4 linked regions of the Homo sapiens genome follow. The protein of the gene in region 4 purifies or fractionates together with the protein of the main gene of each other region. This does not show direct contact. Each region holds a gene or a part of one and is shown on either strand. Other genes may lie near its edges. The genes, in order: NCOA6, KDM6A, KMT2C and PAXIP1.

Region 1 (7,025 bases), on a different chromosome or scaffold from region 4:
CCGGCCCACGTGTACATGTTTTGGTTTCCCCATTTATCCTATCTAAAGTAGCTCTACTCTTATCTCTTACTTTCTCTTCTCTCACCCTACTTTCTCTTGTTAGCTTTTACTGCTTCCTGAAAAAATACTTGTCTGTTTGTTAGTTGTGTCTCTTGCCAGTTAGACTGTAGGCTCCAAGGATGCAGGGATTTGGTCTGTCTTGTTTATTGATGTTACCTCAGCACCAAAGTGCCTTCTATGTATCAGGTACTTAATGAATAATTGTCAGTTGAATGAATATACACAGTATATTTATTGTATACAAGCATATACAATGGTCATGGAGTTCCACTTTGAGTTTATAAGGCTGGTTTAGAAAATCTTCCTTAGAGTTCAGGAGAAGTCTGGATAGTGTGAACAAGGTAGTTTGCCCCCTGCCTTCATAGTTGGAGCATGGACTGGCTTCATAACTTCATTGTAGGGGATTTTCTAGTCCCCATTTAAAAGTGAAAAATAAGGCCAAGTGCGGTGGCTCAGCCTGTAATCCCAGCACTTTGGGAGGCCAAGGCGGGTGGATCACCTGAGGTCAGCAGTTCGAGACCAGCCTGACCAACATGCTGAAACCCTGTCTCTACTGAAAATACAAAAATTAGCCGGGTGTGTTGTTGTGCGCTTCTAGTTTCAGCTACTGGGGAGGCTGAGGCATGAAAATCACTTGAACCCAGGAGGTGGAGGTTGCAATGAGCCGAGGTTGCACCAGAGCCAGATTCTGTCTCAAAAACAAAACAACAAAAAAAGTGAAAAATAAAAGGGACAAAATTAACTACAAAGTTATTCAGTTAAACGGGGAGATAATGCAAGTAGCTATAGGAAAATCCCAAAGACCCAGTAAATAAATAAGCACTACAGCAAGGCGGGTAGCAACTTTTGTCTAAGTTAGAAATAGCTGAGAAGACTAAAACATGTGCCACATGATTCACCAGGGACTGCGCAGGAGAGGGTCACTGAGGTTTTATTATTCCTCTATTTGCAGCTTCCAGATGGGTCATCTAGTCAGTTGGCTCCCACCAGAGGCTCAGCTTCCAGATCAAGATTAACTGCTTTTTACCACATCAGGGCAGAGGACACCTGTCCTTGGTGTTATTTTCTTTGAAGTGCAGCATCCACATATCACACACATAGCTTTTGAGAGTCATTATTATTACAGTTTTCCAAGAAGCATTTTTAAATGTCTTCTCATGATTGTTGAGGTTTTCCTAAGAGGACACTTCACATTCTTTTTTTTTTTTTTTTTTTTGAGACGGAGTCTTGCTCTGTCGCCCAGGCTGGACTGCGGACTGCAGTGGCGCAATCTCGGCTCACTGCAAGCTCCGCTTCCCGGGTTCACGCCATTCTCCTGCCTCAGCCTCCCGAGTAGCTGGGACTACAGGCGCCTGCCACCGCGCCCGGCTAATTTTTTGTATTTTTAGTAGAGACGGGGTTTCACCTTGTTAGCCAGGATGGTCTCGATCTCCTGACCTCGTGATCCACCCGCCTCGGCCTCCCAAAGTGCTGGGATTACAGGCGTGAGCCACCGCGCCCGGCCGACACTTCACATTCTTATAGCAGAGTTATTTCAGTAGCCCATAGTGCTTTTTGAATTTAATTTAATTTAATTTTTTGAGACGGGGTTTCACTCTGTCACCAGGCTGGAGTGCAATGGCATGATCTTGGCTCACTTCAACCTCCACCTCCCAGGCTCAAGCAATCCGCCTGCCTCAGCCTCCCAAAGTGCTGGGATTACAGGCATGAACCACCCGAGCCTGGCCACTACAAGTCATTTTAAAACAGTGAGATGCTGCCTTTCTCATTATTTAATCTGAAAGAAAGTAAACTTTCTTGATCTTTGAAACGTTAAATCTTTAAGATACCATATGGGAATGTAGAAACTGTTTCTCCTTCTCTATTATATGGTCATTGGGAATGTAAGCAGTTATCCCACAGCCACATCTTTGTAGTTTAGAAAACTCACAGGAAGTATGTCAACAGCATATTTATGTTGGTCAGTGGATATAAGGGTGATGGATGTCTTTCTGAGTAATGTAACTTGAGTATCTTAATACCAATAAGATAAAAATATTTATTTCTGAAACTGTGACTTTTTTTTTTTTTAAGGTGGTCAAGGAGCTGGTCCTCCTCAAAACCAGATGCAGGTGTCCCACGGGCCGCCAAATATGATGCAGCCCAGCCTCATGGGAATTCATGGCAACATGAACAATCAGCAGGCTGGTACTTCTGGGGTTCCTCAAGTGAACCTCAGCAACATGCAAGGCCAGCCCCAGCAGGGCCCACCATCTCAGCTGATGGGCATGCACCAGCAAATCGTGCCCTCCCAGGGCCAGATGGTCCAGCAACAAGGAACCTTGAACCCTCAGAACCCTATGATCCTTTCAAGGGCCCAGCTTATGCCACAGGGCCAGATGATGGTGAACCCCCCGAGCCAAAATCTTGGGCCCTCGCCCCAAAGGATGACCCCACCCAAGCAGATGCTTTCCCAGCAGGGCCCACAAATGATGGCGCCACATAACCAGATGATGGGGCCTCAGGGGCAGGTTTTGCTCCAACAGAACCCAATGATAGAGCAGATTATGACCAATCAAATGCAGGGGAATAAGCAGCAGTTTAACACTCAGAACCAGTCCAATGTCATGCCGGGACCAGCCCAGATAATGAGGGGACCAACTCCAAACATGCAAGGAAATATGGTGCAGTTTACGGGACAGATGTCAGGACAGATGCTGCCCCAGCAAGGGCCTGTGAACAACAGTCCATCTCAGGTTATGGGCATTCAGGGACAGGTCCTGCGGCCACCAGGGCCCAGCCCACACATGGCCCAGCAGCATGGTGATCCTGCTACTACAGCAAATAACGATGTCAGTTTATCTCAGATGATGCCTGATGTTAGCATTCAACAAACCAACATGGTCCCCCCTCATGTGCAGGCCATGCAGGGAAACAGTGCCTCGGGAAACCACTTCTCAGGCCATGGGATGTCTTTCAATGCACCTTTCAGTGGAGCTCCCAATGGAAATCAGATGTCCTGTGGTCAAAATCCAGGCTTCCCAGTCAATAAGGATGTCACGCTAACGAGCCCATTGTTGGTCAACTTATTGCAGAGTGACATATCTGCAGGCCATTTTGGGGTAAACAATAAGCAAAATAATACCAACGCAAATAAACCGAAGAAGAAGAAACCCCCTCGGAAGAAGAAAAATAGTCAGCAAGATCTAAAGTAGGTTGTGATGGTTTTGCCTCAAATTTTATTCATTTGTTTTCTGTGTGGATAACTTTTTTGATGGAAAATTTTACAGAATATAAAACTAGAATAGTATAATGAAATCCCCCTGCTTCAATAATTATCAACTCATAGTCTGTCTTGCCTTCATCTGTACTCTCTTCCATTACCCTTTTGAGTATTTCAAAGCAAATTCGCTGGGTAAATATTTCAGTGTGTGTCTCTAAAAGATAAGGACACTTTTTAATATGCCCGCACAATATTGTTAGCACACCTAGAAAACTAATACTTCCTTAGTACTCTCATATCCAGTGTTCAAACTTCCCTGATTATCTCAAATTTTTTTCTTACAATTTGTTCAAATAAGGATCCAAACAAGATTCATATGTTGCAATTGGCTGGTATATCTCTTAATTTTACAGTGTCGGGGGGTTTTGGCAATCAGAGCCTGAAAAGTAACCAGTGCTACCATATGGCAACTCCACAAAGCACTGACTTTAGGCTTATGATGGCTATTGGGGAACCAGAGAGGCCAAATGTGTTTTGGAAATTAAAACTACTGCTGTCTCTCAAATAGAAATGGTTTTTTTGCACAGGTGCCTTTCCTTTAAAGGCTCTTTATCATCCCTAGAAGCTTAAAACCCCACGCTAAGATGATTGGACCTTTTAAATCAGTTACCCTTTCAGTAAACGTTCTCCAGGTGAGTTATTTTGCAAGATCATAGCAGGAAAGGCAATTAACAATTTATATTTCATTTCCTGAAGCTAAGTATTAATTTGTGTTTCTGGGTTTGATAAAATGTTTCCAGAAGGAATATTCACTGAGCTATATTTTGTGCCTTTAATCATAAAAAAATAATAAATGAGGAAATAATGGCTAATGAATGTAAAACAGGTTAATTGAAATAAATTGTTAGAATTATAGAAAAAGAATCAAGAAACTTTATTTCAACCAGCTTAAATATTCAAAATTAAACCAACTACCTTTATCCCAGCCTTCCCACAACATTCTTTGTACTGTATTATATCATGCTCACTTGCCTCTTCTTGAATCTTATGCTTTAAAAGCTAATCATGGTGTATTATTAATGATAACCTATATTTTCCTGAATTCAAAGTTAATTATCTAATTTTTCTGATAGCTCTTTCTCAGTTAAATTCTTTACTAGCATCAACCTATGGGAATAATTATTTAATAAATATTTTATTCTCTCGGTAGTCTGGGAGTAAAATTGCAAGGTTATTCAGTTGCCTCTAGTGTGTATTTTTTGCCATCTTCACCAGCCCTTAGGGAAATTGGTTACTTAGGTCTACAAATTGTGAAAGGGACCTTACACAGCATCAGGACTCCCAGGAAAGGGAGACAGTGGATTTACAGGAAAAGTACCTGCTTCCAGCTCTACCACTACTTCACTGTGGAATCTTGGGCCTGTTTCATACACCTTTTTGGGCCTTAGTTTTCTCATTCATAACATGATGGGGCTGGACCAGATATCTGAGATTTCTTATCTCTACAATTTTCTGAAAGTAAAGGTTACCACTGAATTCTTGCCTGTAATTTAAAGTGAGAGAGAAGTCTTACAAGGAGCAAATTGTTATAGGTCTGGATGTGCTGACGATCTGCTTCAGGTTCTAAATTTCCATTTGCTGGGAGGCTTTTAAAGTGGATTTTTGTGGCTTATGAAACTGTACAGAGTATAATGAGACAAAACACTACCTAAAAGTGGGTGAACAAAATCAGGGCAAAGGGAAACTAAAGATAGAAAAGAAAAGTACAATTAGTACTGAGATTACAAACAAAATGAGGCCCGTGACCAGTCTTGTTCTTTGAGAATGTGGGTGTTAGTAGCTACAATTTCTTCATTTTTTTCTTCCTTACTAAAAATTTTAAGCTACACCCAGGTAAAAGCAAAGGCATCTCAAAGCAAATAGAGATGTCTGCAAATTCTCATTCTGCAGCAAAATCTTTGTGGTGGTGGTCTCAATCTTTCTTTGTTCTCTGAATACCATCAGCCAACCTATACAACCTTTTGCAAGGTGTTATGAATTGAGCCCCCACTGTTATATCCACAAAAAAGAAACAATCAGACCCCCTAGTTGAATTTGATCGCTACATTGAAGATAGTGTGGTTTCACAGGAACAGTACCTTGTAACATTGATAGTCCTATGATCAGGTCTTAAAACAGCTAAGGAATGGGTGATTACATGAAAATTATTGCACCAGGAATTTGTGGAAAGCATTCTGAGTAAATACAGTGCTGTTAGATTAAATGGATTTTAACATTTAATGAAATTGCCAGATTATTTTTATGCCAATATTTAATATTTTATCTAGACTAGAGAGAGATGAATAATGGTAATGCAAACATTTTAGTTCTTCAGAAATAGGGGAAGGGTTAAGCTAGTTTTGTGTATTTTCTATACAACTTATTCTAAAATATGTCACTTTTTTTTTTTTTTTTTTTTTTAGCACCCCAGATACTCGCCCAGCTGGTCTGGAAGAGGCTGATCAGCCACCGTTGCCTGGAGAACAAGGAATTAACTTGGATAACTCAGGCCCTAAACTGCCAGAATTTTCAAACCGGCCACCAGGTGATAAAATGTTAGCTAGATTATATACTTATTACATGTGCATGTGGCATTACAAGGCTTCCATGTCTTCAAGGAAACAATAGTATTTTATTTTATCTGCTAACTAGTCTACTTCAGTGATTTAATGTGTCTGGTATTTGGAAGCTTTGCCTTGATATTAAGTAAAAATTTCAAATATAACTTTTGAAGGCACATACACACACACATTCTATTCAAATTTGTCTTTGTTATTTTAAGTCCTCATAAAATCGGACTGAAATGTGGTTGGGCATGATGGCTCATCCACCTGTAATCACAGCACTTTGGGAGGCCAAGATGAGCAGATCGCTTGAGCGCAAGTGTTCAAGACCAGCCTGGGCAACATGGTGAAACCTTGTCTCTACTAAAAATTTTTTAAAAATTAGCCAGGTGTGGTGACACGCACCTATAGTCCCAGCTACTCAGGAGGCTGAGGTGGGAGCATCACCTGAGCCCAGGAAGTCGAAGTTGCAGTGAGCCATGATCATGCCACTGCACTCCAGCCTGGGACCCTGTCTCAAAAAAAAAAAAAAAAACCATGAAATGTGAAGTGCCTCTTTATTCTTGTCAATGTCAAGATTCTAGTTGGCATCAGAACAGGATAAGATTAAATGGAGAGATGATTTCACTCTAATCCTGCTTGCCTGCCTTTCCTGCAGCGTTTCTTCCTGGGGCTTCTCAAAGCAGGGAACTACCAGGGTTTAAAACAAGATGATCTTTTTTATAGAAGTTTCATTAATGAGTCTTTAAAATATAAAGAAGATATAAAGAATAAAAGAGACACCCATGTATCTACCACATAGGTTAATAATTTATAATAAATAGGACCAATATTGGAAGCCCCCTTTGTTGTATCCTCTCTGATTATAAAATAATACTATCCTTTAAATGTTGAAAAATTATGTCAAAGATGGAAAAGCTCCTAAAATTAATTCATTCAAACCTAGATATTATAGAACCAAGGCCAGCTGCCACAATATCTCTATACCTGGTTATCTTGGCCTGAGCAATGACTTGTAACTTTATTCCCCTATGACACGGTTGAAGATACACAACCCTTCACACTTAGGCCACTCTCCCCTGTGTGTACAGAGGGTATGTTTTGTTTCTTCCTCACTAGTTATTTCAACTTCTTTTTGGCATGAAAATGAGAGCGACATT
Region 2 (7,025 bases), on a different chromosome or scaffold from region 4:
TACTGGCCATTTGATATGACATCATGACATTTTTAATGTATCTTCAGTCCTCAACTAAATTGTAAGCTTCATGAAAATAGGGACTGGGTTTTTGTTTTTTTTCTTTTTCCTTTAGTGCCAAGAATAAGAAGATAATTTCAGTATTTATAATTTCAACTGTTATCTGTGTATCCATCATGTCCATCGTGTATATTCACATTAAGAAAATTACAGTCCTTGAATCGTTAATCTTACCTTGCTAACTTTACTAGTCATAAAATATTATACTTTATATTATTTTTACTTTTTACTTTATACTATTTTTGATACTTAGTTTGAGATTAACTATGTCTTACATGTGCATTTTTTTTATGAATTAAAGAATTATTGCCCTCAGTGTTGTTACTTGGGAAAGGAAAATTGAAATCTGATACAGCAAATCTTACCAACGTATATAGTGTTTTTGTTTTTAACTCTGTATTTTGACCATATAGGAAACTAGAGGTCAAGCTGTATAAGAAGAGTGGAAGAGTGCCGTGTGTGTGTGTGTGCACATGTGCATGCAGCTCTCAGTATTATAATATTGAAGTGATATGTCCCCTAATCATTTTAATAGAGTTCATTAATGCAGCATGCTTTTTAGCACCTATAAGACAGACTATAATATGGTTTGTTGGAGGGCAAATTATAATATTCATTATAGTTAACAAGTATATACATACATACACATAAATATATTAACTTATTAGGGTTTTAAAAAAATTTGCTGTGATATATAGTCCATCCTTTCAGCCGATTAATTTGTTTCAGTATTAATGGAATTCTCTTGATTTTTTTTTTTTTTCCCTTCCCTTCTCAGGTGCTATTCAAGTATTGGGAAAGTTCAGGATGCCTTTATATCTTACAGGCAGTCTATTGATAAATCAGAAGCAAGTGCAGATACATGGTGTTCAATAGGGTAAGCCTTTGTATAAAAATAGTAGTAATTTAATTGATATACAAAGATGGTTGCATCACATATAGTACTTCATAGTTTAAATCATTATAAAACCAAGCAGTTCTTCTGAGTTGACTTATTTTTTCTTAATTTCTCTTTCCAGTGTGCTATATCAGCAGCAAAATCAGCCCATGGATGCTTTACAGGCCTATATTTGTGCTGTACAATTGGACCATGGCCATGCTGCAGCCTGGATGGACCTAGGCACTCTCTATGAATCCTGCAACCAGCCTCAGGATGCCATTAAATGCTACTTAAATGCAACTAGAAGCAAAAGTTGTAGTAATACCTCTGCACTTGCAGCACGAATTAAGTATTTACAGGTAAAATTTTTAAATGGCAGTTTTTTAAAGCCACATATTTCCCCAGAACACTCAGGCAGAAGGAGGGTGGCTGGAAAGTTTGTCTAGTTGTGTTTTGATGTCTATAATCTGTTTCCATATTTTGTAAACATACCATAGCTTGTAATATTATTTTACTTTTCATTTTAAGTAAGATATGCAGTATTTTTAAAGATGCTCTTTTGCACATTTACTCTGTTGATGCATATTAATTTACATAATTTTTTTCTATGTACTGTCTACATTTTTAAGTTGTCATAGCATTTTATAGAAAACACAAACAGTCTTTCACTCTTGCTTGGAGTTTCTTGAGAAGACAGCTATGAGAACTCTGAAAACAGAGCTCAGCTTTGTTTTGATTCTCACAAAGGTTTATATTCCGGTTACCCTGTTTATACTTAGTGTCTTCTAAAGCCCCAAATTTAGAATCTATTTTCTTTTAAAAACAATTAGCTATAGCATTTAGGAAGATTTAGTGGACTTGCTCTTACTCAAGTAGGCTTGTGTTAAATTTGCTTTTTACATAATTTTTCCTAGGCTCAGTTGTGTAACCTTCCACAAGGTAGTCTACAGAATAAAACTAAATTACTTCCTAGTATTGAGGAGGCGTGGAGCCTACCAATTCCCGCAGAGCTTACCTCCAGGCAGGGTGCCATGAACACAGCACAGCAGGTGAGAAGTTGGGTTATGTTCTGCAGGTGCCCAGCTTTAAGGGTTCTTTTCAATTCTCTAGTGGTCAAGCTTAATTTACTAAGCACAGGAGGCTTTTAGTAATGAAAAGCCTTTTGATTTAATTGCAAAGGGAATCTAGATCAAAATAAAATTCCCTCTAATATGGGAAGAGATTTTGGGGTACCAACTTAGAACCTTTGTGCATTTTCATGATTTTGAAGGAGATTTCTTAAAATAATGCTACAGTGGTTTGTTTAATTTTTAAGGCAAGTTTTTCAAAGGAAGGTACACATTATTCCATTGATGAATCATTTAATTTTGATTTTCAATCATTGCAATCAGCGATGTCCACATAGCTTTGAAAAGTATGCAGCTTGTAAAGTTTTATAATTTGAAGGAATGAATTAAGAATATATAGAACCCTATTTTTGTCTTCCTTCTGTGATTCTTAGGCATGTAAACCTCATCATCCAAATACTGAACCTGTATTAGGCCTCAGTCAAACACCAATTTCACAGCAATCCTTGCCACTACACATGATTCCTTCTAGCCAAGTAGATGACCTGTCCAGTCCTGCCAAGAGGAAAAGAACATCTAGTCCAACAAAGGTATATGTTTTAGAGAAATAGAAAATCCCAGTCAAAAAAGAAGTTTCAGCTGCCCTGAAATTGTGCAGTTTGAACATTTCCTGTCCTTTATTTTAAATTTGTGGACATCAAAGAGTGAAAGGTTTGAGTTTTTCCATCCCAAACCCTTAGTATCATATTAAATATAGAAAGTAGGGATAAATTTGCATTCATCAAATCATTTTATTCATCTCCCTGCCGTTAAGATCCCAGCACACTTTTCATCATCACTTTTTACTGACATTGAAATAAATTTAATGTTGGATCTAGTGGACAGTGTGGTGTTTAGGCTAGCCGTTTGGGCCATAGTTTGAGGGTGGGCCTTTTTGGGTGGCTTATTAAATAGTCAGTAATTTTTAAATGTATGATTTCTAAGTTTAATATGCATGTAAAATTATTTTTTAAAGAATTTAATGTTATAACATCTTTTTAACATGTAAATATTCCAATTCATAGTCATTTGGCCTCCTCTAACCATTATTATTAACTGTGGATTTAACCAAATATTCTTTAATTTTTTTTTTAAATCGATTTTCCTCAGAATACTTCTGACAATTGGAGTGGTGGACATGCTGTGTCACATCCTCCAGTACAGCAACAAGCTCATTCATGGTGTTTGACACCACAGAAATTACAGGTATGTAAGATGTTTTTGACAAATTGTTTATTAAAAAGGAGTAGAGGTAGCAAACAAGTATTAATTTTTTTTTTTTTTTTTTTTTTTTTTGAGATAGAGTCTTGCTCTGTCACCCAGGCTGGAGTATAGTGGCACGCTCTTGGCTCACTGCAACCTCCGCGTCCTGTGTTAAAGTTATTCTTGTGCCTCAGCCTCCAGAGTAGCTGGGATTACAGGCACGCACCATCACACCCCGCTAATTTTTATATTTTTGGTAGAGACTGGGTTTCGCCATGTTGGCCAGACTGGTCTTGCACTCCTGACCTCAAGTGATCCACCTACCTCAGCCTCCCAAAGTGCTGAGATTACAGGTGTGAGCCACTGCACCCAGCCCTAAGTATTAATTCTTATAAGTTAAATGGCAGTACATTCAATTAAAATGCACAAAAGTAAAATGAGCCTGCATTTACCAGAATAATGAAGAGCATTCATTCTTGTTTTTAATTTCTTTTTTTTTTTTTAAACAGGACATGGTTTACACTACATAAAGTATAAATATAGGGTATATAGGGTAAAGTTTTCTTCTAACTCTGGCCCCTACCCACTCAAAATGTGGCTGGTATTACTAATTTCCTATCTATCATTCCAGAGGTATGTTATGTATGTACAAGCAAATATACATCCCCCCCTTTCTCACATGTATTATTATTTTTCTTCTTTTTTACACAAATGATAGGATTCTTATTTGCTGTTAACAACATATTTTACAGACTTCTGCATGTCAATATGTGAAGAGCTTCCTTGTTCTTTTATGGTTACATCATATTTCTTTATATAGATGTAACACCTTTATTTAAGCAGATCAGTAATTTTGGACATTCAGGTTGTCTTCAGACTTTGCTTATTCCAGACAGTGCTGCTTTTAGCATACTTGTCAATATATTTTTAAGCTTCAAGAGTTTTCTCTGTGAATACCTAAGAATACTGTATGGATGAGTAAAATTTCATGCCCATCTATTACAAAGAACTCATAGTAAATCTTGTTCAGATGAATGCTTAGTTCATTCTTATATTTCTCAAGCTTATTAAAGGACTTCATCTTGGAGTGTGTGACTGTTGGTCAGAAGACAGTGTGTTTGACCAGATAGTGGTTCTGAGTTTAGTCATTTCAGGGAAAGGTTGCTTAGAATAATGATCTTATTTCCTAAATATATCTTTGACTATATTCTCTTTTTGTTCTTCTTCTAGCATTTGGAACAGCTCCGCGCAAATAGAAATAATTTAAATCCAGCACAGAAACTGATGCTGGAACAGCTGGAAAGTCAGTTTGTCTTAATGCAACAACACCAAGTGTGTATAGCATATTTTTCCCTGAAATTTGTTAGCATTTTGAGTATTTTTATTGACTCTAATGTCATTTTAGAGCATGTTTATGTTCATTTTTACTTTCTACTGGTATTTGACAGAATTTAGTAATCTCTGTATTTTAAAATACTGGTAATTGACGGAGATTTTTAGACAAAAGCAACTATAATTTTGAAGAAGATACTTTGTATTTTATTTATTTACATGATATTTCACATGTATTCTAAGGGTTTGTTTACATTATTTAGTACTGAGGCAAGGTTTTTAGGGCTTATTTAGTTTACAGGATCTGGCATATATGTAACAGAATGAAATTTTGAGATGTCCCCTCTTTTGTGATTGAGAGAAGGACCTATAAGTTCGGGGTCGTTTTCTATAATTTTCAGCTGCTTCCTTTTGTCATTACTAATGGGATTTTTTTTTTTTGAAACCGACTTTTGCTTTTTCAAGGAAGTTTATTTTAAAATGAACAAATACAATTTCTTGTTTTTAAAGTATGTATTTCTCAACTTAGAGAAATTAAGCATTTGGGTAAAATCACACATTCCCTAATTATACATCTTCATATTCATCTGGGGATTCATAGAGAATCCCCTATAGATTCTCTTCCCTATAGATTACACAACCAGCATTTACTTTTCCTTTGTTTTTTTGACAGATGAGACCAACAGGAGTTGCACAGGTACGATCTACTGGAATTCCTAATGGGCCAACAGCTGACTCATCACTGCCTACAAACTCAGTCTCTGGCCAGCAGCCACAGCTTGCTCTGACCAGAGTGCCTAGCGTCTCTCAGCCTGGAGTCCGTCCTGCCTGCCCTGGGCAGCCTTTGGCCAATGGACCCTTTTCTGCAGGCCATGTTCCCTGTAGCACATCAAGAACGCTGGGAAGTACAGACACTATTTTGATAGGCAATAATCATATAACAGGAAGTGGAAGTAATGGAAACGTGCCTTACCTGCAGCGAAACGCACTCACTCTACCTCATAACCGCACAAACCTGACCAGCAGCGCAGAGGAGCCGTGGAAAAACCAACTATCTAACTCCACTCAGGTAATAGGAGGACTAGCTTCCTTGTTGGCTTTTCACATAAATGTTTTTACTGGGTTTTATACACTTTGAGAGAAGAAGAGAGAAGTGTTTGGGGAACTGGTTTTATAAGAATTTTGTGGCACTACAATGTTACTACATTGTGATTCATTATGTACATACATGAGTATATCTTTGTTCCCTTTGTACAGTCTCTACCGACATAGATAACTTAGCAAATTTACAAAGGAAGAAAATAGATCATATAAATCACCCAAAATGCACCATTAATTTACAGTGGCATCATAAGCACATTTATGTAATATTACTTAGTTCATTTCTGCATAAACTGCCTACTTAAGATCAGGCACTAAACTAGGTGTTAGGTATTTGCTTTAGTGGGAGAAAAAGACCAGTGAATAAGTATTTACCATAATGACTGTGAAGTGTGACTTTGGTGGGAAAGTTCTATCAGAGTACCTACGAGAGCACATAACCAAGATGTCAGAGTCTTCCAGAAGCTAGAGTTTAGGGGAGGAGAGGGCTGGTGAAGTGTGCCTAGAAGATAGGTTATGAAGAGGGGAGGGTGAAATAAGAGGCTGAGGGAGAGGCCAAATTTATCTTGAAGGCAAAGTTGATCCACTAAAGTTTTTGAAACAGAGTAATGAATTGCATGCACATTATTTTTGTCAAGGAAATGGGTCATAATGTATTCAACGTTAGCACATTCGTTAGACATTTAATTTCTAAGTTTTTACTTCTGAATGTTTATGTGCATAGTATTTCCCATATTTTGGATTGTTTCCATGATATGGGTACTCGCTGAGGTGAAACTGAAGGGCCAAAGAGTAAGTTTTAAGAAAATGCTCTCAATATGTATAGCCAAATTGCTTGTACTTTTATTAATTTACTATGAGAAATATTTGACTTAAAAAGAGAAATATTTGGCTGATTGTCGGTTAGTCTTATATTATTGATAAAACTGAAATAAGTTCTTTTTCTAAGATTTTTAAGTTTATTCTTGAATTAATATCCTTGGTGGGACCCTGATCTAAAGTGATTAGTACTTTATTCATTCTTAGAGAAATACTGAGTACCTACTAGGTTCATTTCCTACTCAAGGCTCTGGGAATACATCAATAAAGAAAATATACTGAGATGTCTCTACTTGGTGTAGGTAAATAGATAGTAAACAAATAAGCAATACATATATAACATTAGATGATGGTTGTGATTAGTGCTATGGAAAAAAGCACTAATAGAAAGGGAACAGCAGAATACTAGAGATTGGTGGTAGGAGAGTTGCAGTTATAAATCAGAAGGGCAGGGAAGGCTTCTCTGAAAGATAGCATTTGGATGAGAGTTACAGGAGTGAGCCTTGAAGCTATTTGTGATAAGA
Region 3 (7,692 bases), 2.6 Mb from region 4:
ATTAGCTAGGTGCGATGGCGCACACCTGTAATCCCAGCTACTCTGGAGGCTGAGGAAGGAGAATCGCTTGAATACACGAGGCAGAGGTTGCGGTGAGCCGAGATCATACCACTGCACTACAGCCTGGGCTACAGAGCAAGACTTCGTCCAGAAAAAAAAAAAAAAGGCATCTTCTCTACTTAATGTAACTCACTAAGTTAATGAACATCTAAGTAACATTAGCAACTTAAAATATCTCTATGAGATTTAGCAAAGAAGATTAATTTTCATTTCTCAGGTGAATTATTTGCAATTTCACATAATTTCACTGGTTACAAACCTAATTTACACTGGTTACACATAAGTTTCACTTTCAGGGTCTTTACTGTCCAACTACAGGGTCTTTTCTGCATGGATTCTTATACAGTATAGAGATACACAATTCAAAAACCTCTTTGCTTTCCAATTCATATGTTAGTTTCCATTTACATGTTGCTAAAAACAACTGGAGATTCCATTCCCTTCAAAAGACACAATTTCAAAAAAAACGCTCTAAAAAGTTTAGACCCGTCAAATTTACCAGTAGACTTTAATTTCCTATAAAGAAAGCAGTACTAGTTTTCAAATCTAAAAGAAAAAGCTCTCTACAGACTTACATTTGTTCTAAATATTTCCAAAAGTTTTGATTTTTCATAGTTAGATTATACTGTTATTCAGCAGAAATTTTTTATCTTCTCCAAAGGCTGCCTATTTCTTCATGAGATTCAGAATTAAAATAATAAAGTGGCAATACCCTAATCGTCCAGTGCACTCAGGAGCTGCACTAATACAAATGAGCTCATTTCAAAAGTAGGGTGTGTGCGAGTGTGCGCGTGCGTGTGAGTGTGCGCGTGTGCGCGTGCACAAGCACGCCCTTACAGGAGTATGGGGTGTGGGGTGTGACAACATAGATCTAATCTTTCTGGAGTAAGAATTCAAATGCAAATTTAAAACAATACTTGCAAATTAATGTTCAGTAAGAGATGAAGAAATGCTTTGCAAATAGTGAAATGGGAGGCAATCAAGGTAAAACCCCAATATGGCTTGTCCTGAGTTGCTTTAAAGGATGCAAAAAAAAGTGGCTTACATGTCTAAAAATTACTTAAACCTCCACTTCCTTCTACAAATTTCAGTTAATACAGAATAAGGGCATTTTATACTTGCCACTGTATTACAACGCAAGTGGCATAATAAATAAGTCCTAACTTTGTATCACGAACAAGCTAATGTAATAATGTACACACATCCTGTACTTGCTTCCCTCACGATTATCATAGCTAGGTAACAGCTGGCAATAAAATATGGAGGCAAGTTGAAGGCCCTGAATCATTTTCATAGTAAAAGGACAGCGGGGCAAGAAAAGAGCACATTCAAGTCAAGAGCTCAATGGGTTCCCACAACCCAGCTCTGCTATGCCTCAGTTCACGCTACTATTTTTACTACAAATCACCAAACAACAATACTATTACTAAGTGAATGCACCCGAACCAAAGAAACAGCCTATCCATAAACGTGCTGGCTTCCTTCACGTCCCAGCGCACCCTTCCACTCCCGACAGTTCAATGAGAATATCATCTCACGAAATGAGTAAGCACACACGCCATTCTACAACTTCGAGAGACATTCACAGTTCTTCCACGGCACACGCGAGAGCCACAGAAGCCGAGCAGTTCGCTGGCACTAAAACGGTGTCTTAATTTACAAGCAAAGCCGTCAAATAACCGTTCTGTAAGAAGACATTTCTGGTCCTCTAATAAGCTGGGGTCCAGCCCTACTGTACGCTCAAAGGCAGGCGACCCTATTCCCAAGCCCCTTACAGCTAAGACTTACGAGGGAAGCGACATTTACATCTGCACTCTCTCCGAATAAGTGCTCTTGGTATTCTGCCTTACGAGGGGACGCTGGCTACGTCTCCAAAACTTAGGCAGGCCGTTCCCCGAAGCTGGGGGATCCCACAGGACTTGTGCTTTCGGAGCCCGGGAGTGCGGTGCTGGGTGTTGGGGGAGGGGGGAGGAAGAAGTCAAATGGCTTCCTAATATATCATCAAAAGAAGAAAACACAGGTTTGGGACCAGGAAAAGTTCCAGGAGCAAGTCGCTGACAAACAAAAGCTGCACTCGCCCGGCCGCTTTCTTCTCGCCCCCAGCCCGCGCCCCGAGACCACCTGGCCCGGGCGTTTTGACAGCTCCGAGAGTTTCCCGAGCGCCGACGGCTCGGCGGTTCGCCCGGAGTCCGTCCGGGGACTACCTGGGCGCGCTCCGGGCTTGTTTTCTCAATGATCCAGCTAGGCCAAGACGCGGCTACGAGAAATTTCTCCAAAAGAAGAGTCGCGGAGAAGACCCAGTGAAAAGGCCCGACTGAAAAGTAAAGTGTGCGGAGCCGGGCGCCGGCGGGAGCCCGGGCGGGCGGCGCGGAGCGGGGGAGGCCGGGCGCGGGCGGCTACCGAGGGGCGCGGGGCCGGGGCCGGGAGCCGCCACCGCCCGCGGGCCCGCCCCGCCCCCACCCCGCCGGGGGGCGCCGGGGCGCGGAGGCCGCGGGGCGGGCGCCCGGTGACAGCTCCGGCCCGGCGCCGCCGCTGGCTCCCGGCCTGGCTCCCTCGCACTCAACTTACTTCTTTCTGGCTCTCTGGAAAGGGGAAGCGCCATCTTTGCGAGGCCGGCCCCGAGGTCTTTTGTCTGCGGCTGCGGGGCTCGGGGCCGGGGCTCCAGGCTCCTCGGGGGGTGGTGGCGGCGGCTGCGGCTGCTCCACGCTCTTGTCCTCCTCCGACGACATCCTAGTCACCAGGAAAGACACATGGATCCCGGTCCTCCTCCTGGGGGGCTCCCGCCGCCGCGGCCGCCGCCGCCGCCGCTGCTGCTCGGGTTCCTCCTCCCCGGCTCAGCCTCTCGCATTTCCCGCAGCCCCGGGAGCAGCAGCAGGTACCGGGAGAGGCGGCAACATGGAGCGAGCAGGACACGCACTCACACACATCGGCGCGGGCGCGCGCACCTCCGCGCGCAGGGGCCGGGCGGGGGGCGGCGGGCGGGGCGGGCGGTGCGGGGCGGGCGGGGCCGGCGGGTGCGGGCGGGCGGGGCAGCCGGGCGGGCGGGCGGCGTGAGGGGCGCCGGCCCCCGGGGTCTCCGCCCGCGGCCCCTCCCCCGAGCCGCCCGCGGCAGGAGGAGAAAGGGGCCCGGCGCGGGGAGGGCCGGCCGCGGGGCCCGGCGGGGGCGGCGAGGGGGTCGCGCCCCCGGCCGGCCGCCCCTCCCCCGCGCGTCAGGCCCGTCAGGCCCGGGCGGCGGCGGCGGCGAAGTTTTGACAGCTGCTCCAGTGGCGGCGCTGGGCGCCGGGCCGCGGCTCGCTCCTCACACTCGCTCTCTCACACACGCTCGCTCGCTCTCCCGGAGCAGGGGAGGAGGAAGTTTTGCGGGTGTGCTTGGACCCCACACACACGCCGCGCGACCGTGGCCGTCGCGCGAGGCCCGCGCCGGGGATCCCCCGGGGCGACCCGCACCACAGACCTCTCCAACTCGCAGCCGTCGCGCCCACACACCGCCGCCTCGACGGCCCCCGCCCGCTCCCCCACACTCGGCCCCTCGCCCGCCCCCCGCGCGCCGCCGCTGCCACTCACGGGCCTCGCTCCGCGCATGCGCCGCTCCCGCCGCCCGCGGACGCGCCGCCGCCGCTGACCTCACCGCCCCTCCCCCTCCCCCCCGGGTTCCCTCCCCCTGTGACGCGGCGGCCGGGCCCAGCCGCGACTCCGGCTCCGGCTCCGGCTCCGGCTCGGGAGGTAGCCAAGCTGTGGACCCAGAGATCCGGGATCGGGATCGGGGAACTGCGGGCGAGGGCGGGAGGGAGCCGCGGACACACGCCGAGGCGGCCGCGGTCGCCCGGCGCAGCCCGGCGCGAGGAGCAAATGTGCGCCCGCACGGCGAGGGCAGCCCGGGCTTCGCTGGTTCTCGCCGAGGTCTTTCCTCGTAGCGCCCACACTACGGGGAGGAAAAGGAATGGAGTCAACTTCGTTCGAATCCAACGCCAGTTAGTTTCCTTATTATAACGTCATTTTTTTTAATCCAGAAAAGGTTCATAAGGATGTAAGACGAAAAGAACGATGACAGCTCGAGAAATAAAACGGTTAGAGACAAAATAAGCCAATAAAAACCCAACCACTTGATTTTAACGTTCAGTGTGTTGTGATGAAGAGGCAAAAATCGAAGTACTTCTAAGCCACCTCTCATAATATGTAAAAATGGTAAAAAGAAAAATGGGGCTAGAATCCGCCTGAAAAATGCACTTTCTCAAGAAGGACAGTTACAAATATGGGATTCTGGATTTCTCAGGCTAATACCTAACACTTGGACGATGATCTATTCTGTGCTTTCCATTCACTATCGATTAGTTTATGAGAGTGAAAAAATTCTAGATTTGAATGGGGGGAAATAGTAAGACCTATCAACCATTTGTGAAGGATTGGGGTAAACTATCATTTAATAAGCATCTACTTTGGGCCTAGCGTTAAGAGGCACACTCTCATGTTGATTTCTTTTGATCTTCGCAGTGTAGTTTTAGTGTAAGGTAAAAAAAAATAGGCTCCTTTTCCAGCGATGTTTGCTTTCCCTTCTAGTAGCTAGGATGTTAACTTTAAACTGTGTCTTCTACTTGGGCAAAATACACACACTTTGATTCCCAGAGCCTATTCTAAATGAAAGCATAATTTTTTGAAATGGCTGAAATGAGGAATAACGTCAGATAGTCATTTGAATACCTTCAGGGTTTAATCCCTGCTGGCTCTTTCAAATTTACTAAATTTATAACCAAAGGAAATTTGGGATTGAGGAGGAGGCTGGCATGGTAAATGCAAACTAGAAATTAAAAGTGCCTGACGATTACACATAGAAATACAACATATATGTGACTAGTGATAAACATATGATGTGATCTAGTGAAAGTTTACTCAGTACAAATTTGAAAGCACCCTTTCTTTTTTCATTTTCTTCAGCACATTGTACTTTAAATAAAGTGTGCTTTCAAAACTGGATTATTGATCCAAATATTTAGCTGTGTTCCGTACTGAAATTAGAATAGGCACTTCCACGGTGAGTTTCACATGTACAAAATTATACATCAGGATAATTTACTTCCATACGCTTCTCCAGCACTTCTGAGAACTTAAGTGTCAGTGGATACAAATTGCAAGTCACTCCTGCTGGAGAGTTCACAAGAAACAAAGGGTACTAAGAGCAGAAAAGTGAGCCGAGTGAATGGAAGGGTAGAAACAGAGGTTTGTGCAGGGATGCTTCTGGATAGATGATGATGCAGGTAAGTAAACTCAGCCTGAAATCTCCATTCCTTTGGCCACTATGAGCAGGGAGTTGGGATCTGTTTTAAGAGAGCTGATAGCAGTCTCCTTGGCATGAAGTTATCATGAACAGAGCAAATCAAATATAACCCAGGATGCTGAGGAAGGATTCAAGGAATACTTATTCAACATAAATAAAGGTTTTCCAGAGGTTTTTCCGTCTCAGTCATCCAAATTACACAGCTCTGAGACCACAGTAGCAAAAATCTAGGAGGCAGGGAGCTGAGGTCCTTCAAAATTATGAAAGCAAAAAGGCAGGAGCATCTGGAAACAGTACCAAATACAACAGAAAAATATTAGAATGTGTACTTTCTAATAAGTATACATGTTAAATATGGGATTTTAAATTTAGGTAGATGTGTACTAACCTGTTAACCAATCATCTGCAAAGGGGTGAATTACAAGGGACTTTTACTGTCTAAAATATTTGAATATTTCAAAGCACATGTAGTAATCATCTAATCATATATATATATATATATATGTAGTTTTTAATGGGGAGGGAATGAGCATTGTTATCTTTGACAAAGAAAAACCAACATCTCAGAAAAATATAGGCAAGGAAGATTCTCAAAGCATCTAGCAAACAAGTGACAGTGAATAAAAATTCATAGTCCAATATTCATTCTTACTAATTGAAGGCCTATAACATGTGATTGTCTTTATTTAGAATGCACAGGTTCACTACTAAATGTTGTCTCTCTTGTTTTCCCATAAATTCCTCAGGGCTTTTTAGGAACCAAACTTTCACTGTTATAGAAGGACCACTGAAAGCTTAAATTTTAGATCTTAGAATTTTTGTGTTCATATTGTTATTATTAAAGTTGCACTGTAGGCTGGGCACTGTGGCTCATGCCTGTAATCCTAGCACTTTGGAAGGCCAAGGCGGGTGGATCACTTGAGCTCAGGAGTTCGAGACCAGCCTGGGCAACATAGTGAGACCTCCGTCTCTACAAAAAAATACCAAAGAAAATTAACCAGGCCTGGCTGGGCGCGGTGGCTCACACCTGTAATCCCAGCACTTTGGGAGGCCAAGGCAGGCGGATCATGAGGTCAGGAGATCGAGACCATTCTGGCTAACAAGGTGAAACCCTGTCTCTACTAAAAAAGCAAAAAATTAGCCGGGCGTGCTGGCAGGCACCTGTAGTCCCAGCTACTCGGGAGGCTGAGGCAGGAGAATGGCGTGTACCCGGGAGACGGAGCTTGCAGTGAGCTGAGATCGCGCCACTGCACTCCAGCCTGGGTGACGGAGTGAGACTCCGTCTCAAAAAAAAAAAAAAGAAAAAAAAATTAACCAGGCCTGGTGGCACATGCTTGTAGTCCCAGCTACTTGGGAGGCCGAAGTGGGAGACAGTCTTGCTCTGTCACCTAGGCTAGAGTGCAGTGATGCGATCTCGGCTCACAGCAACCTCCACCTCAAATTTGCCGGGCACGGTGGCTCATGCCTGTAGTCCCAGCACTTTGGGAGGCCAAGGCAGGCAGATCACTTGAGGTCAGGAGTTCGAGACCAGCCTGGCCAACATGGTGAATCCCCATCTCTACTAAAAATACAAAAATTAGCCTGGCATGGTGACGTGCGCCTGTAATCCCCGCTATTCTGGAGGCTGAGACAGGAGAATTGTTTGAACCCAGGAGGCGGAGGTTGCAGTGAGCCGAGATCGCGCCATTGCACTCTAGCCTGGGCAACAAGAGCGAAACTCTGCCTCAAAAAAAAAAAAATTCATATTGCTATATAAGTTATTTCAGTAAAGTATATCATGTGCCTGTTTGGTGGAAAAGTTAAAGGAAGAAACCAGGAAGGAAACAAGCAGAACAGTCATCTTCAAAAGTAATTTGTGTTTAAGAATGTGAGGCTTAAGTAGATGTTTTGCAGTACATTTTATATAGATACTAATCTTGCCCTCTAGGGGTCTATACTTTAAGCCTGGCAGTAGTAGTTAACAAGGATAAACACAAAAGGACAAGTAAGCAACTAGAAAATAAACATGGAGGCCGGGCATGGTGGCTCACGCCTGTAATCTCAGCACTTTGGGAGGCCGCGGTGGGAGGATCACGAGGTCAGGAGTTCGAGACCAGCCTGGCCAATATGGTGAAACCCTGTCTCTGTTAAAAATATAAAAACTAGCTAGGCGTGGTGGTGCACACCTGTAGTCCCAGCTACTCAGGAGGCTCAGGCAGCAGAATCCCTTGAACCTAGGAGGCGGAGGGTGCAGTGAGCTGAGATTGTTCCAGTGCACTCCAGCCTGGGCAATAGAGGCAGACACCACCCCCCCCCAAAAAAAAAGAGAAAGAAAAGAAACATGGAAAAACATACAAATAGAAAGATTAAATATTTACGTC
Region 4 (7,025 bases):
AGAAGAGTAAACAGGAGGCCTGTAGAACGCCTCATTTCTGACTCCTGACACAGTGCCAGGGCAAGGGCACATCTATGAATGCTCCATGAACGAACAATGCAAGCAAGGAAGCTCCCTGAGGGCAGAAATGGTCTTCTTCACCCCTCTATTTTCAGTACTCAACCCACAGCACAGGTGCACTGAATTAATAATCGTTCTACCCAATGCAATTAAAAGGATTAACAATGCATGTTATAAATTTTATTCTCATGTTCTCTTCCCCAACTTACTCTTCAAACAATTCATGATTTGATTCACATAGACTTAGAATTTTAGAAATATCCCTCATCTAGCTAGCACCACAAAAGCTGAAGAGAACCGGAGCTCCTGCCTCCAGTTCCCGGCCTAGAGTTACTTGTCACAGCTGAGCCCCCTTTTAACATGAGTAATAACAAGGATCAGGTACATAAAATTTGAAACAGGATGGAAAATAGTAGGAATATAAGATGTAGACAAAACAATCTGTCCTAACGAATGAATCCACTTTTCACTCCATTAACTATCATTTCTTTCAGTCTTAAACCCAGAGTTACCCTTTCCCTCCTCCCCCACTCAAAAAAAAGGATACGGCAGAAGAGTTCCACACTGAACGGACAGAATCACCCAAGAAGGCTGAAAAAGAAAAGATTAAATCAAAAAGTATTCTCAATTTACAAGTGGCATATTATTTTACTAGTGTTGTTCTTAGAAATTAAAAGTCTCTGTTACAACCTATTTTAAAACATCCAGATTACAAGTATGAATATTCAAATAGAAATATTATAGTCAAAGATTAGTTACTAATACCCAAGATGAAAAATCCAATTACAGAATGAAGCACTACCATATTTTTTTAAAATTATGTATAAACATTTAAGTTCCAGGTTTACACACTTATTACTGCTGACCCCCACATTTAGGACAGGGGAACTGCCACCCATCCTGCCCCACCACCGCCGACACCTCATCCAGGGCATAGTCAGCCTCTCATACGCTCCCTTCTTGAATCCCAAATTCAGTCAAGTCTAAATTCATGAGGTGTTTGTTTGTTTTAGTGAAGTCAAGCAGATACAATGTTTGTAAGCCTGAAAATATTTTTATAAATTCTAAAAACTGAGATTAATTATAAAACAGATTAATTACTACCTTTCTGGGTAATTTATATTTTTGAAAAATTATCTTGTTTCTATGTTTAATTTTTATAATTATACAAATCATTCTCCTGATAGCTCTACTTCAGAAAATTACTATCAAAATGTAGTAATGCCCCCATTACTACATTCTGGAAGGCAGCTGACTTCCAGAAACTTCAGCCAACTGAAACAGACATATATACTCACTACCCACCCATCAATTCATTCATCAAATATTTATTGAGAATCTATTTTATGCAGAGATGGTGCAAGGCGCTGGGGATGTAACAATGAAAACGAGAAACGCAGTCTTTGCTCTCCTGCAAGTCATATTCCAAGCTAATGATCTTCAAGCTATTTTTGTCATGTACACCTTAAATAAATTTCAGACAATGAAATGCCCCCCTTATCATTTTTTAGATGACATCTAAAATTTTTCAGCATAACTCTAAATAAGTATATTTTCTGTGAGAAGAGGAATATTAAACATTTTATAAAATAAAATAAAGATTGGCAGCTGTGCCTGGGATAATTACTTCATTATGATTTGACATTTACCAAAGGTTTTAACTAAGTTACTGGATTAGTTATCTGAAATCTGAAAGAAGGCACTTAATTTTTCGATCTATGTGCCTTATCCAACATATCTTCACATTTTTTGATAGTCCTAGAAAAATTCCAGTTAAATTTAAAAAAATGGGCCAGCATCAGGAATCGGTATTGGCCTTGACACTTCTGAATTCAGAACACCTTCATGTAGACCAAGCTCTCCTTTCAACAGCAACACCCAGAAACCCCTCTCTCCTCATGATGCCATGACTGAGCACTAAGGGAACAGTCCCTAAAACCAGTCTTTCTAATTGTCCTTTTGTCTGCTGTCCACGAGAATTTTCAGAGCCTGGGGCAATGCACTACAAGATTAGGATGGGTGAAGGTCTGATTCTTCCTGTGTAAAGTGGGAGGGGCCACTGTGACCACAGGTGTGTTCTCAGGCAGCTTTAGGAAGGGCCAGTCTGGAAATGTTATCTATCACCTTACAACCATCCACACAGCATACACGCTGAATATCTCCCCCCAGGGAGCTTGGGTAGGGTATCCCAGTTTAAAGACTGCTGGCTATCATAAAGTCCCATCCAAGCACAGTAGAATCACTGAGGCCCTACTTCAGATAAGTTTAGATAAAATAATGCAAAATTAGGATGTAGGCCACAGTACAAAGCAGAAATGGAGAACTACAAAAGCAAAGTGATAAGGAACTATTTATCCTAAAGGCAAAGAACAATATATAAAAATAAGCTGGCTGATCGCGATGGCTCATGCCTGTAATCTCAGCACTTTGGGAGGCCAAGGCGGGCGGATCACTTGAGGTGACAGGTTCGAGACCAGCCTGGCCAACATGGTGAAACCCCGTCTCTACTAAAAACACAAAAGTTAGCCGGGCGTGGTGGCACACGCCTGTAGTCCCAGCTACTAGGGAGGCTGAGAGAGGAGAATCGCTTGAACCCTGAGGCAGAGGGTGCAGTGAGTCGAGATCACACCATTGCACTCCAGCCTGGGAGATTCTGTCTGAAAAAAAATTAAATAAAATAAGCCCACTACAAGTCAGCAAAATTAACATTTCCAATGATGCCCAAAGGCCACTGAGAAAAATATCTCAATTTAAAAAATAATTTTAAAAGTTTTGGTGCCCAAAGAAGCAAGTTTTAAACATTTATAAGATTCAAATATGTAAATGATAGATAAACTGTCACTGTGTATAAAGATGCCTTATTTTTAAAATGCATTGTCAAACTTCCTATCAAGGTAAAGGCCAAGGGATATGCCTCTAGGGAACCAGGTCTCAGCCTTCAGTCATATGAATTCAGACTCAACTATTAGCAGCAGGATCCAAAATAAGACAGGCCCATAAGGTTCAAACTAAGAATATCAGGATCTACTTGAAATATCTTAGAGTGAAGGCAAACTGTTGAGTCAGCTCCGAAGTACTCTACCACCTTGTAATGTAACACAATAGTCCCTGGACAATACAGGTGCTGTCAAAAATTACAAGCAGGCTGGAATGCTACTGGGTACAGATGAAATATGTCTGTCACTCATTTTAAAATACTATAGCCAGAGGGGGAAAAAGTTGGGTTTGAATACAGTAAACTACCTTGGCAAAATGGTGATAATCCTAGATGCTAACTGCTAATTGTATAAGTAATGGGTATTTCTACTTAGCCTTACATACTGACTTTCCCAGGAATATGAATACTGTGTAAAATGAAGGAAGACTGCTTTGTTTAGCTCAGGAATTGATCACCATTCTGAAATGTCACCTCACAGCGGCGACCCCACTTGTGGGGTATGATATCAATCTGTAATTGCAGCAGCTACCGGCAGTGACTCTACATATAGCAGCAGCCATGCCCAAGTGTTTACACATTGAAATATATATTTATTATTTACTTGCCTTTTATTTCGCCTTCACATTTCAGTTTGGGCAATTTATATATACATATTTTAAAGGTTGGCTTACGTATCGATTCATTTCTGGATAATAAGGGGAGTGCTACAAAGTACTTATTACAAAAAGGTGGTTTGGGGTCAGGCAGGTTTAAGAACTACTTCTGGTAGTTGGCCTGGCAACAATCACCTAGGCCCCAAGGATGTGTTAGAAAGATCACCCTTTCACATAACATCTGCATAAGATATGCAAAGCCGCTTTACTGAGACAATAGCTCCAGGCTATTGTCTGAGAGAAAGAAAGTTTGTAGGAAGGAGAAGGAAGAGACAGAGATACTGTCCCTAAAGCAGTACAAGGAAGCAAGCCAGAGACAAAAACATGTTCCAAAGAAGAGGGTGCCCCAGCTCAGGACCTCATCCAAGGCAGTTTCCGACCCTGGGTACCAGGGAGGTCACCACTTCCCAGCAGCCAGGTGGCTTCTCTGGCCCCGCAATTTGACTTAATGGCAATCTTTCTATTTTTTTCCCTTTTTCTTTTTGTTTAAGAGATGGTGTCTCACTGTGTTACCCAGACTGGAGTACAGTAGCTATTCACAGGTGTGATCACAGTGCATGGCAGCCTTGAACTCCTGGCCTCAAACAATCCTTCCACCTCAGCCTCCTAAGTAGCTGGGACTACAGGTGAGTCCCACTGCACCAGGCTGGCAATCTTTCTTAATTCCTAACACTGTTATTGTTAAACCACAGTAACTTTCATACTGATTTCTTTTTAAGGCAAAGCATTTAATAACATGAAGAGGGAAAAAATGGTAGTGGTATAGAACTATTTTAAAACAAATACTTCATAGGGAAGATCTGAAATAAAATCGAAGCATTGGAATTACAAAATTTAACAAATTTTTAAAACACACATTTTAACAGAAGTCAACTAACTTATCAGCCATAACATAATACAGTAGGTGGATAAACAAAATCTGAACAATTCTTCCACTAGCTGAATCCCTCATTCTCTGCAATAAATTACCCATAGGTCAAGTTGGATACACCCCAGACGACCAGTGGGTAGACAATGTGACTAAAGGCCATTGTGACTCTTGTCAGAAAGGAGTTCCACAACATAGTTAATGGGGGACGCCCTTCAGCTAACTGAAATTCAGAACACCTTGCCACAGTCGGGATGGAAAGTAACCCTGTCCTAGAGTTACCTCCCGACAGGCCTTAGCCTGCTTTTGGAATGAAATACACTCTTACAATAATTCAAACACCCATCTGATTCAAGGCATCAGATCTGTTTCCCATGACAGGTTTCCCTGGCTCAGAAAACTTCCAGGCAGTGGTAACGTGGGACGAGTTCTGCAGCAGGCATAAAGGATGGCCTAGGATTACTTACGACATACAGAAGCCATGCTCTACCTTGGTTTAGCTGAAAGGACCTGAAGCTAAGGGAAGTTACTCAGACGTTAAAGATGTCCACAGTTATCTGGCAACTTTCCACACAAAACAGGACTTTAGGGCCAGCACGGTGGCTCATGCCTGTAACCCCAGCACTTTGGGAGGCTGAGGCAGGCGGATCACCTGAGGTCAGGAATTCAAGACAAGCCTGGCCCAACATGTTGAAACCCTGTCTCTACTAGAATACAAAAATTAGCCAGGCGTGGTGGCAGGCACTTGTAATCCCAGCTACTCAGGAGGCTGAGGCATGAGAATCACTTGAACCCGGGAGGCGGAGGTTGCAGTGAGCTGAGATCGTGCCATTGCACTCCAGCCTGGGCAACAGAGCGAGATTCCAGCTCAAAAAAATAAATAAATAAAAAATAAAAATAAAATAAAACAGGACTTTAGCAAAAACCCTGAAAAGAGCTATAGTGAAACTTCAATGTACTGCTTGCAAGATACTGAGGAAAAGATATAAAACAAATTATGTTTACTACTGACCTTTACAACAGGTAAGTCAAAGACTTCCCGAGCTTCTCCCACCTCTGGATTGTCCCCATCCTCTGAGATTATGTGTGAGGCTAGTGCATTGTAGGAAACTTCCTTCGCTTTTCCAGCCTTGAGAAGCTGAATAACCTAAAAAACAAGAAAATCCACACAAATTAAAATGGGCAATACTGTACTGTACTCTTGAATTACAGAAATAATTATTGGGCATAATAGTACTTTTTAATAAAAACACACCATATTCCCCACATAAAAACTAACAGCCTTTTACTCTGAATAATATGCCAATGAAACTTTCGGGGACAATCAAAAGCAGCAAATCTTGATTCACTGACCAAGTCAATGACCAAGTAATGGAGGCTATTGTGAGTCCAGTAGTGGACATGGTCTGTCCTCAAGACAGATGGGCTGGACAAACCAGGAGACAGCACAACCACTGCTGCGGTGGGGCCACGCACATGGTGCTCCTGAGCTTCCAACTTAAAGACTGGGACATGGGGAGTTTCATAATTAGGGAAAGATTCTGGAAGACAAGATATGTGAGCAGAACCCTCATAAACGTCTGGGTGTTAGGCAAAAATCCATACATCGAGGAAGAGGGAGCAGTGTTGAAGGCACTGAACAGGTGAATACAGAGCAGACCGTAAATGGGCTTTCTTACACACTATGCAAAAAAGTCTGTGCTTCATTCTGGGGTATATGCAGGGCCACTGAAGGATTTCACACAGGAAAAGTAGCACAGATTTCATACAAAGATGACAGTCCATGTGAAAAGAAAGGATTGGGTGGGCTGGCTGTGTTTGGTTGGCTAGATGACTAAAGACAAGAGACCTGTTAAGAAACAAGTGCAATAACCCAGGTGAAAGAGGCATCCACTAAAGTGATGTCCTGATGGGCAGAAAGGAGGAAGATGTGAGAGAATCGGCAAGCCTTGGTGTCTGGAAGGGGTATAAGCAAAAGAGCAAAGTCCAGACTGAAATGGTGGTGAGTACCACTCACTGAGGAACACATCAGAAGGCTGGCAGGTGGGGACACAAGGACGTGTTTTAGTTTGGGCATGCCATTCTTTGGGGGTCGTGTTAATATCTGGCAAGAGGCATCCAGTTGCAGCTAGGAAAAGATGTGGATCTCCCTGACAGAAAGTCATCAGCATTGTTACATAGATGGGAGCCACAGCCATGAGCGTGAAGGTGGTCGCAGTGCAGAATGGGAGGGGAGCTAGAGAGCAGACACAGCAACTGATACTTCAGGGACAGGTAGGGAAGTGCAGTATCACAGGAGAGGAGCGTCAACAGAAGCCAAGGAAGTGAGGGTTAAGGAACAGTCGACAGTCAAGTGCTTCAGAAGAGGTGGGCAGTGTCTAAGCTGACAGTGCACACCAACTGTCAAAGTGACATGGTGCCCACAAAGCTCAAGTGACCCACCAGGGCAACGCTCTTCCAGGTCCCCTCTCTGCAGCAGAGAGCTTTCTTCTTTCACTTATTAAAC

The links.
Region 1: the proteins of PAXIP1 (region 4) and NCOA6 purify together in Homo sapiens (co-immunoprecipitation; 6 studies listed by BioGRID and IntAct, with this or other methods). This does not show direct contact.
Region 2: the proteins of PAXIP1 (region 4) and KDM6A purify together in Homo sapiens (affinity purification with mass spectrometry; 6 studies listed by BioGRID and IntAct, with this or other methods). This does not show direct contact.
Region 3: the proteins of PAXIP1 (region 4) and KMT2C purify together in Homo sapiens (affinity purification with mass spectrometry; 4 studies listed by BioGRID and IntAct, with this or other methods). This does not show direct contact.

The regions. Positions count from the first base shown.
Region 1 is NC_000020.11:34,745,628-34,752,652, reverse strand, and holds part of NCOA6 (nuclear receptor coactivator 6), read left to right. Parts: intron 1-2,133; coding exon 2,134-3,250; intron 3,251-3,256; exon of another isoform or gene 3,257-3,954; intron 3,955-5,724; coding exon 5,725-5,846; intron 5,847-7,025. UniProt on the Homo sapiens protein: Nuclear receptor coactivator that directly binds nuclear receptors and stimulates the transcriptional activities in a hormone-dependent fashion. Coactivates expression in an agonist- and AF2-dependent manner.
Region 2 is NC_000023.11:45,058,168-45,065,192, forward strand, and holds part of KDM6A (lysine-specific demethylase 6A), read left to right. Parts: intron 1-838; coding exon 839-937; intron 938-1,079; coding exon 1,080-1,299; intron 1,300-1,854; coding exon 1,855-1,989; intron 1,990-2,441; coding exon 2,442-2,597; intron 2,598-3,156; coding exon 3,157-3,252; intron 3,253-4,479; coding exon 4,480-4,581; intron 4,582-5,254; coding exon 5,255-5,650; intron 5,651-7,025. UniProt on the Homo sapiens protein: Histone demethylase that specifically demethylates 'Lys-27' of histone H3, thereby playing a central role in histone code. Demethylates trimethylated and dimethylated but not monomethylated H3 'Lys-27'.
Region 3 is NC_000007.14:152,432,998-152,440,689, forward strand, and holds the start of KMT2C (histone-lysine N-methyltransferase 2C), read right to left. Parts: upstream 3,007-7,692; 5' UTR 2,790-3,006; coding exon 2,629-2,789; intron 1-2,628. UniProt on the Homo sapiens protein: Histone methyltransferase that catalyzes methyl group transfer from S-adenosyl-L-methionine to the epsilon-amino group of 'Lys-4' of histone H3 (H3K4).
Region 4 is NC_000007.14:154,993,119-155,000,143, forward strand, and holds part of PAXIP1 (PAX-interacting protein 1), read right to left. Parts: exon of another isoform or gene 6,962-7,025; intron 5,667-6,961; coding exon 5,532-5,666; intron 654-5,531; exon of another isoform or gene 652-653; coding exon 608-651; intron 1-607.